3 linked regions of the Homo sapiens genome follow. The protein of the gene in region 3 binds, or shares a complex with, the protein of the main gene of each other region. Each region holds a gene or a part of one and is shown on either strand. Other genes may lie near its edges.

Region 1 (6,984 bases), on a different chromosome or scaffold from region 3:
AAAGAAAGGTTATCACTCAGAAAATCTGAAATTAGAATTCTGGAAGGTTAACTTATGAAACATTCCTTTTGGAATATTTCATATAAAACATATAAAAATTAGTTGACAACATATTTCTTTTTTTTTGAGATGCAGTCTCGCTCTGTCGCCAGGCGGGAGTGCATTGGTGCTATCTTGGCTCACTGCAACCTCCACCTCCCGGGTTCAAGAGATTCTCCTGCCTCAGCCTCCCCAGTAGCTGGGCCTACAGGCACGTGCCACCATGCCAAACTAACTTTTGTATTTTTAGTAGAGATGGGGTTTCACCATGTTGGCCAGGATGGTCTCGATCTCTTGACCTCGTGACCCGCCCGCCTTGCCCTCCCAAAGTGCTGGGATTACAGGCATGAGCCACTGCACCTGGCCAACAACATATTTCTTTATGCTGGTTTCTTTGCCTCTGCTGAGATTAGACTGAGGCACAAAACTTCTCATATCCTAATGACTATACTTTCATTCCCACCATTAATCAGTCAACAAAATATATTCCTACTTGTCTAACATTTTCATATGCAAAGTAGCTCCTATTAGTGTTATTATCTTTCTCTTCCCATTGGCTTAATCATTCTCAAAAATCCTCTAGTTACCCACAAAATTCCATCTCTCTAGGCAGATTCTTTTTATACTTTCACCACCTTCCGTCTCTATCCTCCTTCCCTGTTTTCTCCCTTAAAAGTTATTCTTCCCTTTGAGGCCTTTATCTCCCTTCTCCCTACCAGTTTCATCAAGGTCTGCAGAAGTGGTAAGCTGAGTGGCAGTTATCTCCCCACTGCTAAGATTCGAAAGATCGAGGCAACGTTTTGGGGTTCCTCTGTTGAGACATAATAGTACATCGAAATTCCCATTAGATTATTATATCCTTAAAAGTCAAAGATCATGTCATCCTCTTCTTTTTTTTTTTTTTTTTTTTTTGCAGTGGAGTCTTGCTCTGTCCCCCCAGCTCAAGTGCAGTGGCACGATCTTGGCTCACTGCAACCTCCGCCTCCCGGGTTCAAGCGATTCTCCTGCCTCAGCCTCCCAAATAGCTGGGATCACAGGCGCCTGCCACCACGCCCAGCTAATTTTTGTATTTGTAGTAGAGATGGGGCTTCACCATGTCAGCCAGGCTGGTCTTAAACTCCTAACCTCAGGTGATCCACCCACCTCGGCCTTCCAAAGTGCTGGGATTACAGGTGTGAGCCACAACGCCTGGCCAAGCCTGTTCATTTGAAACACCCCTTAATGACTATCAGATCATCTGAACAGTGTCCAAATAAATCTAATTGCTTTTGGGAAATATATCAGACTGGGCTGAGAAAAATCTCCCACTACCATAATCTGTACTTTATTTTCTCCTTACCAACATACTGAAACAGATAATTTTTTTTTTTTTAAATGAGGCCCAGAGTTTATTGGCCGAGGGGGATCTTGACTCCACATTCCCGGTCCTGAGCACTATGAACACAGGCTTGATTTCTCCCTGGGGTCCCTAGTTTTTCTCAGGTACTACTTCTCTTTGCTAGTTGAGACATGGTATGATCAGAATTCAAAGTACAACTGCAATAACACTAATATTAATACTAATAAAGTGACCGACTCGTAATGCAGCGGTTTTCAAAGACTTTTCCCAGTTATCACATCATTTGATTCTCACAAGATCCTAGTAAGATAGGAAGCGATTATTATTTCTTTGTCTTTTCTTTTCTTTTTGAGATAGAGTCTCACTCTGTTTCCCAGGCTGAAGTGCAGTGAGGCGATCTTGGCTAACTGCAGCCTCCACCTCCCGGGCTCAAGCAATCCTCCCACCTCAGCCTCCCGAGTTGCTGGGACTATAGGTGCACACCACCACACTCAGCTAACTTTTAATATTTTTTGTAGAGACGGCGTCTTGCCATGTTGCCCAGGCTGGTCTTGAACTCCTAGACTCAGGCGATCCGCCCTCCTTGGCCTCCCAAAGTGCGGAGATTACAGGCATGAGCCACCTCGCCTGGCTGAGATTATTTCTTGTCACAGAAAAGAAGGTGAGACTCAAAAGGGTTACACAGTCAAGGGCAGAGTTGAGACTTAAAGCCTGACCTTTGAGCCGGGATAATTGAAAACAAACCAACAAACAAACCCAACTGTTTGGAAATAGCAAAGGCAATACAGTGTAAAAATAAAAGTATATTTACCCAGACAAAATGCTTAGGTTTGCAGAATCACCAAGAAATTTGCCCACTGGAGTTCTAGGGACATCTGGACAGACGGTAAAGGAAGTGTCTCTCTCCAGGAGCAGGTTTAACATTTTCCTTTGATTAGACCTAAAACTGGGTCCTGAGCCAGAGCTTCCTTCCTCTCTTGTGGATGAGAAGAGTTCCGTAGACATGGTCTTCGAATTCTCACCAGGAGAAAAACAAAACCTAGCTAGGAGGAAAACGTCATCTAAATCGGTACATCACAGTTCCCTCAGCTTTCCTAAACTCCTCCACCCTTTCCAGCCAGGCGAATCAACACTGGAAGAGGGGCAACCCCGAAGGGTGATTCACAGCCTGGCTTAAGGTTAGAACCTGAATTCACCGACGAGAGGCAACCTTAGGACCTTAAAGATGGAATGAAGAGAGGATTTTGACTTGTTCCACGCCACACAGCTCGAGACTCCTGACTAGAAAGAACCCGGGTCTCGTAACTCGCGATAGTCCCCATTCGGCCCTCCCAACCTCTGTCTGTGGGGGCCCGACTGGACCCTAAGGGGGACAATGGGGTCTCCGTGATTCCGTGGCGGAGACGGCTGCGGACTTACCTCAAGCCTGGAGTCTGAGGCTTGCCTACAAGAGGAGAGAAAGTAGATAGGGATCGGACACAGGCGAAGACTTGAGCAGAATGAAAGGAAATCTAGGGGAAAGGAGGTAGTTAACTAGATTGCAGCTCTGCCTTCCGACTGGGTAGGCCAACGTCGGACTCAGAGTCTTCCCTGAGCAGAAGGCCAAAGTTACGGCCTCTGAGCAAGAATATCAACAGCCGCAGGCGTTGACCATTCAAACCTTCCGCCAGCCCAGTAACCTATCCCCGCTCGCCTCTAAGCTGCGTCAGCCAATCTCCGCGCGCGCGCCCAGGGCCTCATGGCCTATCGTTGGGCTCGCAGATCACCTGGGGGCGTGTGCTTGCTCTGGAAATGGTAAGACTTGCCCCGCCCCATAGCCAGAGCAGGATAGTGTTTGGCCCACCAGCGTTAGGCAGGCTGCGGGGTAAGCTCCGCCTCACGGGGAGCCTGGCGCATCATTGGCTCTCCCTCTCACCAATCTCCACACCCTTTCTGTTTTCCTCGTTCCCTCAGCCCCACGAACCCCGGGAGATTTAAACCGCGCCTTACTAGTGATGTCCATTCACTAGGGTAATACTAGGAGAGATTATTTTGGGTGGAGGGTGTTGTAAGCGTTTCATTTTCTTCGCTTCTTTCTCGTGCCGTTTTCGCGGACGTTTTCTTCTAAGTTTTGCTGGCCTTCCACGGGAGATGGAGCGTTTGCTGCCGGCGTGGCAAGTGTTGGGGCGAGACGGGTGTGTGTGTTTATGCTGAGAGGCATTAGCCCCTTCCAAGAGCTTTGTTTGGTGTTTCTTTTAGTGTGCAGCATCTCAGAGACTCTAGCTCACGTGGGTAAAAAGAAATTCCGTTGCAGGGAAAGTGGAGGAATTAAATCATCTTGGTATAATCCTTATCGCAATCCAGAGGACCTCAAAGATTGGTTATTAATGAAAATTTGAACATTGACGAGGTGATATTTATAAATTATTGGCCGGACGCGTTGGCCCACACCTGTAATCCCAGCACTTTGGGAGGCCGAGGCGGGCAGATTACATGAGGTCAGGGGTTCAAAACCAGCCTGGCCAACATGATGAAACCCCGTCTCTACTAAAAATACAAAATTTAGCCGGTTGTGGTGGCACACACCTGTAATCCCAGCTACTTGGGAGGCTGAGGCATGAGAACTGCTTGAACTCGGGAGACAGAGGTTGCGCCACTGCACTCCAGCCTGGGCATTAGAGTGAAACAAACAAAAAGACATTCCTAATGTTAGGGATTTGCTTTTAAATAATCCTGTGCTGGGGGAAGGTATTGATGATACAAGATTGACCCTGACTGTTGAGTGATGGGGGCAGGAGGGTCCATCATATCTGTGCTTCTCAAGGTTTAATTTGCACACTAACCACCTGAGGACCTGCTAAATGCAGATTCTGATTCGGGATGTCTGGGTTGCGGTTGCGGCCCAAGATTCTGCCCTTCTAACAAGCCCCCAGCTGATGGTGAGGTAGCTGGTCCTACGACCATACTTTGCGTGGTAAGGTATTACCCCATACTTCTTACTTCAATGTATATTTGAAAATTTCCATAATAAAAATGTTCAAAATAACCTTGGAAGCTCTTTAAGATGTAGGCTCCAAAAACGATAATTCGATAGGTCTAAAGTGGGGTCATTATCAAGGCCCCCAGGTGCTACCCATGCAGACGGCTTGCAGATCATGCTTTGAGAAACAAAAGTCAAAATGCAACTTGTGTCTGTTGTCAGGATCTTGGTGGTGGTAGTGGCTGAGAGGCACAGTGTAGCCAGCTGGTTTTTATCCTAATACCCTTTTCATCTGCAGAACCTGCTTCCCCAGAAAGGAGATGTGTGAAGATTCTTTGTCCTCTAGGATACAGACAGTGAGTGTAGGAGTTAGCACAGAACCTTGCTATGCCAGGTGAGTTTGAAAATCAGGCTGGGGATTAAGGGAGTGTGGGATGAGTTGTTATCTGCTTTGACGACTACAGTATAATCACACTTTGTGGGAAATTGTATACTTCCCTGCAGGTGGGAAGTAGAGACAAAGTTATTCTCTATTGGTGGCAAAAGCAGATAGATTATGGCAAGTGCACACCTGGCTACCAGTGCTTTCTGCACCAGGTCCTCAAGTAAGTGCAGTTGTGGGTGGTCACAACAAAGGTGTCAGCCAAGTGGCTTTAGTTCAATGTCAGGTGATGGAAATATACTAAAATCTGAGCACTCTGACAAAGTTGCAGCATTCCTAAAACAAATTCTCCAAAAATCTAGCCCCAAAAATAAGTTTCTGAGATTTCTCAAATGGAACTTATACACCTAGCTCTTAAGAGTATTTTTTTTTTTTTTAAGATGGAGTCTCGCTCTCTCCCGGGCTAGAGTACAGTGGCGCAATCTTGGCCCACTGCAACCTCTGCCTCCTGGGTTCAAGTTATTCTCCTGCCTCAGCCTCCCGAGTAGCTGGGACTACAGGTGCCCGCCACCACGCCTGGCTGATTTTTGTATTTTTAATAGAGGTGGGGTTTCACCATATTGTCCAGGCTGTTCTGGAACTCCTGACCTCAAATGATCCACCCACCTCGGCCTCCCAAAGTGCTGGGATTACAGGCATGAGCCACTGCGCCCGGCCGCCCTTAAGACTTTTTACAGATGCAGTGGTGCGCCTGTAGTCCCAGCTACTTGGGAGGATCACTTGAGCCCAGGAGTTTGAGGCCAGCCTGGGCAACATAGTGAGACTGTCTCCTAAAAACAACAACAAAAAAACTTTTTTTTTTTGAGACAGTTTCTTTCTTGTTGCCTAGGCTGGAGTGCAATGGCGCAATCTCAGCTCACTGCAACCTCTGTTCAAGTGATTCTCTTGCCTCAGCCTCCTGAGTAGCTGGGATTACAGGCATGCGCCACCACACCTGGCTAATTTTTGTATTTTTAGTTGAGACAGGGTTTCGCTGTGTTGGCCAGGCTGGTCTCAAACTCCTGACCTGAGGTAATCCACCCACCTCGGCCTCCCAAAGTGCTGGGATTACAGGTGTGAGCCACCATGCCCAGCCAACAAAACTCTTAAAAGCTCTACGTTTGTTAATGAGGTTGTTTTCCTAGCAAACATTTTCACTATCTCCTCATGATTCCAGCTGGCTTAGCTAATTGCAACATACTTAGCTAATTACATGTAAGTTTACATGCATACATACAAACTGTGAAATGGTAGAATTATTTTAAAGGGAAGTCAAATATTGTCTTTTATATCTTGATTTATGAGGGTGTTGGAATATATCTAAGTTATCCTTCCCAGAAGAAAGAATATTAGGGAGGTGGGAAGTTTGGTGTTTAATCTGATTTGAAGATTTACTTTTTCTGTTGGATTGAGGGCATTGATCCTATGTCATCCTTGGGGAATCCCTATCTAGGCTCCTGATTCACTGTGATAAGCAGTGAGCTGTGTTCCTTCACCTTGACCTCAGTCTGACTCATACATGTTGTTGCCAGGGCACAGTGACAGCCCGGGCTTCACCCTGAAACACCAAACAAGAACAGGAGGTACAGCCATCACTCCTGGGATGCCCAGATCAGGCAGTGGAGAAGAGCCCTGCATTCCTGGGATCCTCCCAGCCAGCCTCTGCAGGGCAGAGGGGCTGAGGGGTGTGTTTTCTATTCCTGGTTCTTTTTATGACTGGTAGGCTTAGCCCTACTTCTCCCCACTTTGCAGAGGTTTAGCTTTCACTGGGTGAAAAGGGAAGGTCTGAATCGAGTGCATGTTCCTCCAACTCGGCTGTTCCTTCCTAGGCAGGGAATGAAGAGTCTTAGAACCAATGGATTCCACTCCTTTGGATGACCTCCTGGATGACTGGCTCCAGGCCCTGGAGCCCTCAGAATATGGATGGAGAGTATCCTTTGCTGAAACCCACTGGAGCAGGGTCACAGATGGGGTTTGGCCCATGAGGGCATAATTAAGATGCAGTTCAAAGCAGTGGCTCAAGAACAAAAGACTAAAAAGGGGGCAGCAGGGAAAGAGCAGGACATGAGTAAAAAATCCTTGGGAACTAAAAGTGGAATAAGGAGATTTAATTATGGGTAGGAGTGTTGGGCTGCACTGGGAGGCCATTTTATAGATGACGAAAGGGGATGTAACCTTCCTTTGAAATGAGGCCTGAAACTTGACTTGCAGGGTTTTTTTTTTTGT
Region 2 (7,022 bases), on a different chromosome or scaffold from region 3:
ACAAGGACAGAATGAAAGAGGGAAAGACACAGGCCAACAACAGATGATTGAGATGGAGAGGAAGGTAACAAAGAGATGGGAAGTTCCTGAAAGAGGGATGAAAAATGAGGGGCAATGTGATCTGGCCATACCGGATGTCCCCTGCTGCAATGAACACAGGCTCCTTGCTCTCCTGGCTGGTGATGCTGTCCACAGAGAACTGGGAGATGTTGTCACAGCTGTTGGTATGCACTTCGGGGAGCTGGAGAAAGGGGAGTGCTGGTCAGAAGTGCTAAAGTATAGGTCTCCCGTCTTTCCCCTCCTGCTTGCTTGCTATCACTGCAGCATGCTCATCCCTCTCTTTCAAACTCTGCTTACACACCATGTTGGTTACTGGGACCCCAGGCTGCCCAGAGCAGCATTTCTCAACATGTGAACTACCTGCAGTAGAATTACCCAGAATGCAGATTCCCAGGCCCCACCATCAATCTGAATTATAATTACTAGGAATGGGATCTGAAAGTCTGAATTTTTAACAAGTTCTCCAGAAGACTTCCAATGCACTAAAGTTTGCAAACCACTGCCATGACCATTACAGGAGCTCAAAATTTCAGCCTCACTGAGAGTCCCCCAAGGATAGGGATGCGTTCTCCCCTAGGGTCCAAAGCAGACTCTTTGCAGACTAGCTTCTGACAGTTTCTTCAATCTAAGTCATTCAATCTTATCTTCTCATCTCTCTCTAAATACAGAATATTCTACCAGACCCCAAGGCCCATGTCAAGTCTCTTCTGTCCTTCATACCAGAGCATTTCTTCTCAACTCCATTTGTCACCTAGTACACACTGCTTTGTTGTATATCTAAATTTTTTTTTCTTAAATGTCTAATTTCTGCAATTGGACTATAAGCTCAAAGACAGAGATTCTGCCTTTTGGCAAAGTGAAACCTGGCTGTGTGTTTTTTTTTTTTTTTTTTAGACGGAGTTTCGCTCTTGTTGCCCACGCTGGAGTGCAATGGTGTGATCTCGGCTCACTGCGACCTCCGCCTCCCAGGTTCAAGCGATTCTCCTGCCTCAGCCTTCTGAGTAGCTGGGATTACAGGCGCGCGCCACCATGCCTGGCTAATTTTTTGTATTTTTAGTAGGAACGGGGTTTCACCATGTTAGTCAGGCTGTTCTTGAACTCCTGACCTCAGGTGATCTGCCCACCTCAGCCTCCCGAAGTGCTGGGATTGCAGGCGTGAGCCACCGCGCCTGGCCCTGGCTGTGTTTTTGTTTTGTTTTGTTTTAAGACAGAGTCTCACTCTGTCACCCAGGCTGGAGTGCAGTGCTGTGATCTCAGCTCCCTGCAGCCTCCGCCTCCCAGGTTCAAGTGATTCTTGTGCTTCAAGAATCACTTGCCTCCCGAGTAGCTGGGATTACAGGCATGTTCCACCACACCTGGCTTTTTTTTTTTTTTCTTTTGAGACGGAATTTTGCTTGTCACCCAGGCTGAAGTGCAGTGGCGTGATCTTGGTTCACTGCAACCTCCGCCTCCTGGGTTCGAATAATTCTACTGCCTCAGCCTCCCGATTAGCTGGGATTACAGGCACATGCCACCACGCCCGGCTAATTTTTGTATTTTTAGTGGAGACGGGGTTTCACCATGTTGGCCAGGCTGGTCTCGAACTCCTGACCTCAGGTGATCTGCTCGCCCTGTCCTCCCAAAGTGCTGGGATTACAGGCGTGCGCCACCGCACCCGGCATAATTTTTCTAGTTTTAGTGGAGATGGAGTTTCACCTTGTTGGCCAGGCTGGTCTCGAAATCCTGACTTCAAGCGATCCACCCACCTCGGCCTCCCAAAGTGTTGGGATTACAGGTGTGAGCCACTGCGCCTGGCCAGCTGTGTTAATAGCTCTACACAAAATTCTGCTCTGGCTCTTCATGCCCCAGAATAAAGTTCAAGTTTCTTTCCCCAGCTTACAGGGTCCTTCCTATAGTCTGGTCCATGCCCACGTGTCCAGTCTTATTCTTCACCACTTCTTACCTCACACCTGCACATCACAGCCAGGCAAAATTTCTTTCAATTCCTATAATGGCCCAAGCTCCCTCTTGTCTTCTGGCCTTTGCATGCAGTGTTCCCTCTGTCCAGCACTCTTTGTCCAGCTAATTCCTACCCATGCTTCCAGCCTCAGCTGAGAGATTACTTCCTCCAGGAAATCTCTTGTGATGCCCGCCCCAAGTCTGGTGCTCTTATAATGTCCTATCCTTTCCCCCATGACTTGACTCTCACCACACTACAACTACTTGCTTACTGGCCTTGTTCTCTTTCCAGTTAGGTCATAAATCCCTTGTAGGCAGGGGCCAAGTCTTGTTCACTAGCATACAGCACTCAGGTCTGGCACATAGAAGGCCCTCAATAAAAATTTCTTGAATGAATTAATGTATGACTTCTCATCCTCTGCTATTCTATGACAACTTTATGTAGGTGTTCAATAAATATTTTCATTAAATTTCCCTCACTCCCCTTGGCCTAGAAGCTCCTCTTTACATTTAAATCTGAATCCTTCACCTGGAAAATGAACTCCACCTGAATCTATTCCAGGCTAGAGTTGTTCAGAGCTTTCCCCATATTACCCCTCACTACCTACACCACTCATTAGGATACTTGCCTTACCCTGCCTTGGGATATGCTGTCTTGTTTCCAATATAGTGAAAGCTCCTGGAGAAAGCTCCTGTGACCCAGCATTACCTCCCTGAAGCCCTCTCACCTCCACTTGCAGCTCGCCTATGTCATCCACCGACCAGGCCTCATCATCGTTGTCATAGTTGGGCACAGTGCTGAAGCTGCCAGCTCGCTGCTCATGGGTAATACCACATTCGGGCAAGTTTTCTACGGACCTCGTACTCCGAATTCGGTTCTCGGGGATCCGGGCAGGGACACTGGTGGTGTCAAAGTTTTCACATTCAAGGACTTCCACATAAATCAGGTAGGGAGCCTGGGGGAAGAGTGAGACAGTATTTGCAACTTACTTCCACCACTAACCCCCAAATCTCAACTCTGTTAGCAAGGTTCTTCCTGCTGTCCTTTCTCCTAGCTCCAGCCTTCATCCAATAGTCCTCTGAAACTATGAACACTATATTTAGGGCAGATACTTGTCCTATGATCACCTATGTAAAGAATTTGTGTGACAGAATCCTTAAGTCTTCAAAATATTTCAACTGAGCTCCAAAATGTACAGATGATGTGCTTGGGCCAAACCACTCTAGACTATCAATTACAGGCTGTAAGGGAGGCCTAGATGCCTCTGTGGGCTCGTCCTGAAGACAGGGCCCAGGGAGCTACAGTGGACAAAAAGACTGGGACAAAGCTGGGCACTGTCCCAAGGAGTGTCCCAAACTTCAGTATTTCCTTTGAAAGAAGAATATGGGCCGGGCGCGGTGGCTCACGCCTGTAATCCTAGCACTTTGGGGGGCCGAGGCGGGTGGATCATGAGGTCAGGAGTTCAAGACCAGCCTGGCCAAGATGGCGAAACCCCGTCGCTACTAAAACTACAAAAATTAGCCGGGTGTGGTGGCAGGCGCCTGTAATCCCAGCTACTCAGGAGGCTAAGGCAGGAGAATCGCTTGAACCTGGGTTGCGGAGGTTGCAGTAAGCCAAGATTGTGCCACTGCACTCCAGCCTCCGCAATAGAGTGAGACTCCATCTCAAAAAAAAAAGAAGAATCTGAACCATGAATACTCATTCCAGTCAGCACACAAATTCAGCTAATTCTCTCCAGTGTGAATTGGGCATCCTTCTCTCCTTTTGTCGGCTCATTCTGATCAGAAAAGGTCTTAGAAACAAAATATTTCTCTATCCTTATGGTTGCTGTATCTGGAAAGCCCAAGAGTTATAGAAAGGCTGGAGAAAAGCTACCAAAATGACCATAAGGTGGGGTGAAGAGCAATTCTCCTAAGATACAGCAAGAAGGAAGCTAAAAAGATTAGGTTTCTTTGGTCCAGAAAAACAAAGCCCAAAAAGGGATACAGGGGGGCTCTCAAAATCACAATCGCACTGAGACAGAGTCATGGTTGACATATGCATCATGAACTATGAAGGGAGTCTAGGATGTTGGTGAGGGCCTCACTGGTCATACACGCAAACTCTGAACAACCATGGGTGAAGAGTCACGTCCAGGGTAGGGGTTTGGGCCAGAACCCATCTACCTTGTCCTTGGAGTTGAGGACAACAGCCTGTGTGTGGGGTACACGGACCACGTGGTGGTCAAAGCCAGCAGTGGGCAGCCAGACTCGGGCAGGGAGCTTATGGTTGAGCAGGGAGAGCTCTGAGATCAGCCTCTGTGTTTTCTGCTCTTTGGTGGGGAGCGTGGCCAGCCGCTTGCCGATCGCCATCAGGGACTTGATGAATTCTCTCTCAGGAGCCAGTCGAACAGGCTACAGGGGTTTGGGGTAAGACAAAAGATGGTGAAGAAACCATAGAATACAATGGCACACCCACTCAGTCACTCCTGGCCATGCAGGCCGGGGACCCCACTATCTGGAGAACTCCAGGAAAGCAGCTGCTTTTTAGTCTTAGTAGGAGCTTCCACCCACCCTTCACAACTTGAATTGAGAATAGCCAGCACATTCCTTCCCTATAGGCTATCCCTTGAGGGTAAGGGAGGCCATGAGTCCAGGTAACTGGGATGCACTCCTCTTCTCCTGGACTTGGGTTCCTTAAGGACTGTACCAAGGCTTCAGAGTGAGCAGGGGGACATCTGGATAGGTTAGCCAGGGCCACAGAGAGAAGAGCTGCTTACACCTGAATTGTTTCACCCTTTTCAAGAACAGGGTTGTCCTTCTCCCCATCTGGATCCTTGGGCTAGATCTCTGCCGAGGGGCTCCGTCAAGTCCCGCAAGGCTAGAGAAGGGAGCCCCACATCATTTCCACTTTCAAAGAGGGAAGATGCTCGTCATTCAAATTACTTCTGTTGATTTCCATGGTATCCCCCTGTCCGTCCCACAATCTCTTACCAGGCGTCAATGCACATGCAGGGGATGGAAAGAGGATGAGCCGATGAGCAGACTTTGCATTAATCAAGGAGAAAGAAAAAGCAGATGGAAGGAGGTAGGTAGATGGAGAAAGCAACAGCTCCTTTTAGCCCTTGATGATGGCCCTGAAGGCCTGTCTCTTTTAGTGACTCCTCTTTGGGTCCTCTTCCCCTACCTCTCAGTGACTAGGTTCCTCATATTAATTCCCTGCTGTGAGTTTGGCTCCTTGTGCTGGGCAATTCAGTCATCCTCAGAAAGAGCAAAGTTGGTCTTGGAATTAAGGTGCAGGTGGGGAAAAAGAGGGACTCAGCTAGACACGAAGAAAGGCTCTCTTCCCAGTCTAAGCCCTTCTACCGTAAGGGGCATTTTATCAAGACAGCCACCCAACTCCCCATCCCATCTCCCCTCCTTTGTAGAAACAGCATTTGACTCACCAAGCCTTTCTCTCCCTTTCCGTGTGTCTTGCTTAGTTTCTGGATTGAGAGAATTTCTATCCTTGCTCCCTCGAACTCTAAAAGAGCTTCTTTTGAAAACTGGGGAGTATCAGGCCTACCTCTACATGTGCAACAGTGCCAGGATTCAAAGGAAAAGCTCATTCCAGCCTCTGCCTCTTGGGAGATGGTTCAGAGTGCCACATAGGGACTGAAAGAGGGTGTCTGAATCCTTCAGGAATGCTTTAAGTGACATTGTTGAAAAGAGATAAAGAAAAGGAAAACAATGGAATTGGGTTTCTAAGGTCCCTGGAAATATCCTGGGGGTCTAATAGAGAAAGAAAATAAGAGGAAATTTGAAGACTCACTTCTTCCTTCATCTGAATCCACTCAGATGGCAACTGATCTCTGTCCCAAGGACCCTCTACCCCACCCAATTCATAATCATCTCAGATTAGAAAAGGCAGAATTCCTTCCCATTCTCAAATCAGCATTTGGGTTAGGGGCCCCTAAGTTACGTGAGCATGTTAGAAATGTGACCCCAGGCCTCAAGAGAGAGGCTCTGCCACATGAGAGGAGATAGGAATCATGACTGAAAGGGGATTAGCACAGAACAGAGAAAACTGATTTGATAGACAAATCAAATAGAAAATATAAAAAAAATCAGCCAAACTCCCAGAGGTCCTGCATTTCCTCTCACGTCTTTGCCCAGCAACAAGGTCCAAGACCCTGTGGGACCAAAGGGTCAGGGGTTAGTCCAGAGGGAACAAGAAAGGAGAGGGGATTAAGGAACATCCTGGGCAGTGAGCTGGGAAAAGGGAAGAACTCAGACCTGGAAAAAATGTGGTTGAAGTTAAAAAAGAAAACCAGTTGTGGAGAGGCAAAACTTTCCTTCAGGCCAAGTCCTATTTGTTTTTGGAGTCAGCTCACCAGCACAGGGCCTAGCATTTAGAAGATTATGAATAAATATTTGATAATCTGACGGCAGAAGCCATGGGGAAAGGGTTCTGGGTGGGAGAAACAGGATCCTGGGGGTTTCTGCCAGGCAGTTTTTGGCTCTAATCCAGGAGTGAATTCTACCTCTCTCCCAGCTGTTTGCTCCAGACACTCAGGAGCTGGGGGCTGAGCAGCACTGTACTCCAGCTGTCTCTGAGAGAAGGATCAGCTGAGCTCATCTCAGCCTGGGCTCAGGATTTCCACCGCAAAGGTCAGGGGAACTCCAGCAGATCTGGGAGGTCTGGGAGGGAGGAGCTGATCTCCCAGTAAGAAAAGGGGCATTTTAACTCCAGCCTTGGCCTGGGGGCTCAGAAGACCTGGGGACGGAGAGGAAATGCGGCCACTGGGGGAGCCTGCCACCCCGTCCCAGCCTGGCCCCACTTACGGAACTGAATGAATTATCAATACTCTCGGTGCTGGAGGAGAGCTCCTGGGAAAGGGCCAGAGGGCAAAGGGAGAAGGAGGGGGTGGGAAGGGAGGGGAGAGAGACAAAGGTAAAGAATTTAGCTCCAACTTGGATCGTAACTGCTTCTCTAGTGAAGTTCTACCTTTCTGCTTTAATAAAAGAAAGTCAACTCAGAAATGCTACTTGCCCAGATGCTTGAC
Region 3 (7,022 bases):
TGTTGGGATTACAGGCGTGAGCCACCATGCCCAGCCACCTTTCTCAACTCTTATGGTCAGCATCTCACCAGAAACACTTGCCACTTGTTTGGTTCTTTTGGTCTATCATTAGGCCAGTAAGCAGCCTGACTGCTGTTTACCCAGCCCTCCTGTTACTTGTGGGTTCTAACAAATAGCTTTAAAGTTGTTTTATGGTTAATTCAGTGTTCAGCTTTGGGGAAAGAAGTGCTTAACTGCCATTTTAATTCCCAGGGAACTGCTTAGTTCAGCATATTACCCAGGTAGAAAGTTACTACCTACAAAAGATAGATTACTACTTTTAGTAGCATTTATCAACACCTTTCCTAAAAAAATTTAAGTTTTTAGTACAGCTTTAAAATTTTACATCTTAAGTGACTGGTTCACTCTTAAGTAACTGCATGTGTTTATGGCCTTCATCTCTGCATACATAGAGGGGGTTAAAGTTACCGAAAAGTGAAAGACGTGATTAGGCAGTGTTACTCTTTTTGAGACAGCCTCACTGTCACCCTGTCCTAGAGTACAGTGGTATAATTCAATTACAGATCACTGCAGCCTCAAACTCCTGGACTCAGATGATCCTCCTGTCTCAGCCTTCCAAGTAGCTGGGACTATAGGGGTGTGCCACCACACCTGGTTAACTTTTAAATTTTTTTGTAGAGGCAGGATCTCATGTTCACCGGGGTGGTCTCAAACTCCTGGACTCAAGAAGTGATCCTCCCACCTCAGCCTCCCAAAGTGTTGGGATTACAGGAGTGAGCCACCGTGCCCTGCAATTCTTGTAAAGTGTATTGTAATGGAAGGAATGATAGCCTTGTCTCTACAGCTAGATTATGAATTACCAGAATATTGTGCTTCCAGCTTCTAGCATGGTGTCTGGTGTTATTGTGATAATAGAAATAAAATTTTAAGTGCTTACTCCTAAGTGCTTACCTGTATTTTTTCTCAATAATCTTAGAGGTCTCTGCCTTACAGGTGAGATAACTGAATCATTGAGATTAAGTAGTTCACACGGTGTATAGTGCTGTAATTCAAAACCAGACTCACCCCAAAGCCACTTATGTTTATACCATCTCCCATAGTTGAATGAATAATACAATTTGTGTAACAATGAAACTTTTGAAAATCCTGGTCATTTGTTTCTTAAAACCATTGTTTTTAAGTGGAAAGACTCACTTGACTATTTTAAATGCAAGTGTCTTCCACTGTTTGAGGCAGATCTCCACAGAGCAACCATAGGTGGTAAAAAGCATTGTATTCAAAGGACAAAACACTTTTGCAGCTAAGAGAACTTTGAATATGAAAGTATGAATGTGGTGTAAGACAGAGGTTGCTATCCTAACCAAAACGTTCTTCTGATTTCCGGCCAGTAATTTTATTTTATTTTTATTTATTTTGAGATGGAGTCTTGCTCTGTCATCCAGGCTGCAGTGCAGTGGTGCAACCTCGGCTCACTGCAGCCTCTATCTCTCGGGCTCAAGCAGTTCTCCTGCCTCAGCTGGGATTACAGGCGCCCGTCACCACGCCTGGCTAATTTTTGTATTTTTAGTAGAGACAGGGTTTCACCATGTTGACGAGGCTCACCTCAAGTGATCCTGCCACCCTAGCCTCCCAGAGTGCTGGGATTACTGGCATGAGCCACTGTGCCCGGCCTCAGGCCAGTATTTTTAAATATCGGTTAATAATTGCAGGAAACATCATTTCAGGTTGACTTTTCTCACCTTTAACCTCTTTATATAGCACAGTGCAATCTGGCCCTACTGCCACTTCATCTGGGTTATCTGTAGCTTGAGTTGTAAAAAAAAAAAAAAAAAAAATTGGGGGAAGAAGTTGGGTTAAAACTGTTCACCTACCCAGCATTGGAACATAATGGGTAAACAAAAAGTTGGAGTTACCATTTAAAAGCATTTTTCAAATTTATATTTTATATATAAGTAGGTGCTATATAAACTAATACTTTTTTTTTGTAAGAATGGATTTGGAATTTAGCTCAGCTGAAAATTGACTTCACCTTGATTCTCAGAGTGTACTTGAACTTTAAAGGAAGTGGGGTAGTGAGAATGGGTGGTTGGGGTTTTTTTGCTTTAATGTTTACCTAATTCTACTACTAGAATTATTTTTCTCCCCCTTAACTGGAAAGAAAAAAATTACACATTTATTGAGACTTCTTCCCATCCCCAACACAATGATCTAATCTTTTTGCTTTAAAATCAGTTAAAGAGTGTAATTTTTAAAATCCTAATCAAATGACTCAGATTGTAATAGTAGTTTTAGACAGAATTTTATAGGATGATGTTTTAATTTTATCTGTTGTCTGGGATGATCTGTAATCGTGTATCTTACTAGCCGAAAATGACTTCAATGAGATTAAAGGTCTGCTCTTTAAAATCTGTAAGTCTCCTACCACTGTCTTTAGGAAAAATAAAACTTTTGAACGGTTTTTTTATCTGTTGTGAGGTTTGCTTGAATTGTGTTGTTATAAATGAAGTTTATTTTGTTCCTCCTTCTCTGGCATGGACTCCTTAAGTGTCTTACATTATTGGTTTCTGCTTTAGTCATTTCTCCAGAGTCCCAAAAGGTTCATCCCGTATGTTCTTTCTATTTTCATGTCATGACCACATGAAACTTCAGATGGAAAGCTTGCCAGCTCATTAGAAAATGTTCCTAAATGTGAACGGTCATGCCCCACATTCATGAAGTCAGCATGTAAATAGATAACATTGTCAGGGACCAATGTTCAATTTTATTGTCCTCAAATAATAAACTGAACACTAACTTCAAACTTAAAATATTGCTGCCCAAAGCATTCTGCTTTAAACCACAAATTCATGTGCCAGCTGCATTCACAATTGTATTGACAGTGACTGGGTGTTTAAGTTTTATAACTTAGGCTATAGTTTGTTCTTTAAGAAATGCAAGTTCTTTCAGTTTTGTAAATGTTTTATTCTCACTATGTCTGTTTCTTTTCTTCTTAAGTCTCTTTTGGAAAAGTTCTTGATCCCCAATGCTTCACAAGCAGAGAGCAAAGTCTTCTATTTGAAAATGAAAGGAGATTACTACCGTTACTTGGCTGAGGTTGCCGCTGGTGATGACAAGAAAGGTATGCTGTTTTTAAACCTGTTGGTTGAACTTGTATAAGATAACATAGTGAGGAAGAGTCTCTGAAGCGTACATAATGTCTTGTTTTGAATTGCTTAGAGTGCCGAATAAGGAGTAGCAGTGCTCTTTGTGTTCTGAGAATACACATCTACTGCCTCATACTGCTATTCTAAAATAAATGCTTTCTGAAAAGCCAATATTGTGTACAGGGATGTTTTTTCAAGATTTTAAGAAAAGTGACCAGCCTGAGCAACATCTCTCTCTACAAAAAATATTTTGAAAATTAGCTGGGCATGGTGGTGCAAGCCTTTGGTCCCAGCTAATCTGGAGGCTGAGGTGGGAGGATTGCTTGGGTCTGGGATGTCAAAACTCGTCAATTTTTTAAAAACATAACAATAATGAGATTATAAAGTTGTTTTATCTTGACATTGATCAATGGCTAGTGTGTACCAGGAGAAAGCTCCCTTTAAAAAAAAAAAAGGACCTTGTTCAATTAACAAATATTAAGCTGTTACAGGTTAGTATTTCAAAGGATATGTGAGATATTAAAGGTTTGGTTTGAGGGGTGAAGATATAATGCACACTTTATCTCAGTACGTTTTGGTGTGTCTTATCCAGGGATTGTCGATCAGTCACAACAAGCATACCAAGAAGCTTTTGAAATCAGCAAAAAGGAAATGCAACCAACACATCCTATCAGACTGGGTCTGGCCCTTAACTTCTCTGTGTTCTATTATGAGATTCTGAACTCCCCAGAGAAAGCCTGCTCTCTTGCAAAGACAGTATGTATTTTACCTGTTACGTAGAAATTTAGCAGTCTTTATTATTTGAGCACTGAAATGTAATGTACTATTTTTAAATCGTAGGCTTTTGATGAAGCCATTGCTGAACTTGATACATTAAGTGAAGAGTCATACAAAGACAGCACGCTAATAATGCAATTACTGAGAGACAACTTGACAGTAAGTACATAACAGCATCATTAGTGATGAATGTGGTTGAAGAGGTTATGTTTTACTCTAGGGAATTTTTTTTTTTATTAAATACATCTTTTAAAATTTTTTCTCAACACATTTCATAGGCTCTCATAAATATATCTCAGCTACTATTAAAGTCCTATGAAGGAAAATTACAGAAACTGAAATATTAGACTGAGAACTAAAAAATACACACATTGATGAGTTACCTGTCTTGTTAAAATTTGTTAGTATCAAAAGTGTGCTGAGACTCTACATGTTTTAGTTCCTTTAAGAATGATTTTCTTGCCCATCAAGTTGCCTCCATATTGGTAAAGATAATGGTAGGGAATTAATAACTTGAGTTACAAAATCTCAGGTATCTACAGAATCCAAGTGGAAGTCTATTTTGCCTAGCTTCTTATTTTAAATGACTTAATATGAAAGGTCGTGATTGTCCTTGGGATACTGCAGATGTATAAAAAGAAACAGTGTCACTATCACACCAGGAACATCAACATAATTCCCTAATAATGTTTGAATATCTAAATAATACTTGAATTCCAATTATCTCTCTTTTTTTAAGTTATTTGAATTGGGATTCAAATTCAGTCCACAATGCAGTTGATTTGTATGTCTCGTTTGTTTCTTAGGTCTTCTCATTCTTCTCCTTCAGATAAATACTAGATTTGAAATTTTGAGGCTTAGGTGAAAAAATTATCAAGCATTTGCTGTGTGTCAGGTAAAGAGGTAGGAATTGCAGATCATAATCTAGGTATTACTGTTTTTTTGTTAGACTTCTAGGGCCATTTCTCTTGGGGACTATGTAATCTCATTTTATACATTTCTCTTCCAACTTTATTCTAGTCCACTGCCATTTTCTATAAACCAGTTCTATATGCTAGTGCTGAAAATCTTGAAGAGTTTTTTGAATAGTATTGTATACTTGTTTATTAAACCTAAAATTACTTTATTAGCACAATTTGGAGCTATCTATAAACTTTTCTGATACTTGAGTCAAGATAACAAGCCACAGTAAAGAATGAAAGAATCTTATATATCAAACATAAGAAGCACTTTGTTAACTAACTTTAGTATTAAGGATTTTTCTTTTCTAGTTTGAAGTGATGACATTTTTAAAGTGATGACCTGAGACCTAGATACTGTGTTTTGTTCACATCACTTTTTGAGAGGCCCTGATCTACTGTCTGCTTCCAACTGAATTTTGCTATCAGTATAGCATGAAGAGCGCATATTGCAATAAGAAAACCAGGGTTGGCCGGGCGTGGTGGCTCACGCCTGTAATCCCAGCACTTTGGGAGGCCGAGGCGGGCGGATCACCAGGTCAGGAGTTCAGGAACAGCTTGGCCAAGATGGTGAAACCCCATCTCTACTAAAAATACAAAAATTAGCTGGGCATAGTGGTGGGCACCTGTAATCCCAGCTACTCGGGAGGCTGAGGAAGAGAATTGCTTGAACCCGGGAGGCAGAGGTTGCAGTGAGCTGAGATCACACCGCTACACTCCAGCCTGGGCAAAAGAGCGAGACTCTGTCTCAAAAAAAAAAAAAAAGAAAAGAAAAAACCAGGGTTTTGATTCTAATTCTGTCACTACTTGTATGTCTTCTCTGAGCCTTATTAGTGTCAGCTGTCACCATTATAGGTTGATTGGAACATTTATCTGTCAAGAAAAGAAATTATCCCAAAACTTAATATTTCATTCTGAATTTGGTTGACCAAGACTGTCAACACATTACTCTAGAAAAAGAAATATTTTGTATCAAATTTGCATGTTTATACAGAAAATTCAAGAATCCTTGAAAGTTAGAACAGGAAAGAGACATTAGAAACAATTTCATCTTGCAATTACAAAACCCCTTGTTTGACAGGAGGAGCACACAGTTTCCAAGAGGTCATTTGGCTATCTGTATGACCTTGGAAGTAGTCTCCTTTCCAGGCCAGAGATATATTTGCTTAGTAGATAAATGAAGCTAATGGATGATTTGGGGAATATAAAAATAATAATTAGTGTATTTTCCCCTTCCCCTCCGTTTTCATGTGTAAGTCATATATAAAATTTAAGATTGTCTTGAATCCTTTTGTAATTACCTCTGAAAATCACTAGAGAGTGGTTAAGACTTCAACATTTTTAACATTGGAGCAGGTGGAATAGAGTTCATAACCCTGCCACCTATGGGACAACTTTCATTTTTACCTGTTAAAAGATTTGGTTCTGGTTTTTGTCCAGCATTTATTTTGAATCATATGATAGGGTAGTGCAAAAGTAATTGAGGGTTTTGCCATTTAAAGTAATGGCAAGAGCTGCGATTACTTTTGCACCAACCTGATAAATAAAGGTTTGTTTTTCTAAGCTTAAAGTGTTAGAAAAGCTAGATTTGTAGTTTAGCTCAGAGTTGAGGCTGGTTCTTGAATTTCATGGAGTATAGGATTCTGTTTGGAGTGTGAGTCACTTTAAGATCTACCAGTGGAGAGTAGTCAACCCTAGCTCCTTCAGCATGGGCCAAATTAGATGCTTCTGGTATAGTTGCACTCACCTTGGACGTCCATCTTTCATATTGGGGCTCTTTAGGTTCTGACACCTATTGATGCTTAGTTTTTAAAAAATAATTTAGGGCCTGGGCACAGTGGCTCACACCTGTAATCTCACCACTTTGGGAGGCCGAGGTGGGTGGATCACGAGATCAGATCAAGACCATCTTGGCCAACATAGTGAAACCCCGTCTCTCCTAAAAATACAAAAATTAGATGGGTGTGGTGGCACATGCCTGTAGTCCCAGCTACTCAGGAGGCTGAGGCAGGAGAATCGCTTGAACCTGGGAGGCGGAGGGTTCATTGAGCCAAGATCACGCCACTGCACTCCAGCCTGGTGACAGAGCGAGACTCCATCTCAAAAAAAAAGTATTATTTCTTGTAATTTCTCTTCACCTTCT

The links.
Region 1: the proteins of YWHAZ (region 3) and CDC25C are in contact, whole or in part, in a crystal structure (PDB 5M36), measured with the Homo sapiens proteins. Residues at the interface, in NP_001129171.1 of Homo sapiens: Lys11, Glu14, Gln15, Glu39, Val46, Lys49, Asn50, Arg56, Arg60, Val61, Ser64, Lys120, Arg127, Tyr128, Glu131, Gly169, Leu172, Asn173, Val176, Glu180, Asp213, Leu216, Ile217, Leu220, Asn224, Trp228; in NP_001274511.1 of Homo sapiens: Gly210, Tyr212, Arg213, Ser214, Pro215, Ser216, Met217, Pro218, Glu219, Asn220, Leu221, Asn222, Arg223, Arg225.
Region 2: the proteins of YWHAZ (region 3) and PI4KB are in contact, whole or in part, in a crystal structure (PDB 5NAS), measured with the Homo sapiens proteins. Residues at the interface, in NP_001129171.1 of Homo sapiens: Asn42, Ser45, Val46, Lys49, Arg56, Phe117, Lys120, Arg127, Tyr128, Gly169, Leu172, Asn173, Val176, Tyr179, Glu180, Leu216, Ile217, Leu220, Asn224, Leu227, Trp228; in NP_001317650.1 of Homo sapiens: Lys290, Arg291, Thr292, Ala293, Ser294, Asn295, Pro296, Lys297.

Annotation. Positions count from the first base shown.
Region 1 is NC_000005.10:138,328,798-138,335,781, forward strand, and holds the start of CDC25C (M-phase inducer phosphatase 3), read right to left. Parts: upstream 3,008-6,984; 5' UTR 2,823-3,007; coding exon of another isoform or gene 2,798-2,822; intron 2,422-2,797; coding exon of another isoform or gene 2,384-2,421; coding exon 2,190-2,383; intron 851-2,189; coding exon 756-850; intron 1-755. UniProt on the Homo sapiens protein: Functions as a dosage-dependent inducer in mitotic control. Tyrosine protein phosphatase required for progression of the cell cycle. When phosphorylated, highly effective in activating G2 cells into prophase.
Region 2 is NC_000001.11:151,303,410-151,310,431, forward strand, and holds part of PI4KB (phosphatidylinositol 4-kinase beta), read right to left. Parts: intron 6,847-7,022; coding exon 6,802-6,846; intron 4,781-6,801; exon of another isoform or gene 4,758-4,780; intron 4,393-4,757; coding exon 4,165-4,392; intron 2,955-4,164; coding exon 2,727-2,954; intron 242-2,726; coding exon 132-241; intron 1-131. UniProt on the Homo sapiens protein: Phosphorylates phosphatidylinositol (PI) in the first committed step in the production of the second messenger inositol-1,4,5,-trisphosphate (PIP). May regulate Golgi disintegration/reorganization during mitosis, possibly via its phosphorylation.
Region 3 is NC_000008.11:100,921,012-100,928,033, reverse strand, and holds part of YWHAZ (14-3-3 protein zeta/delta), read left to right. Parts: intron 1-2,994; coding exon 2,995-3,118; intron 3,119-3,735; coding exon 3,736-3,899; intron 3,900-3,983; coding exon 3,984-4,079; intron 4,080-7,022.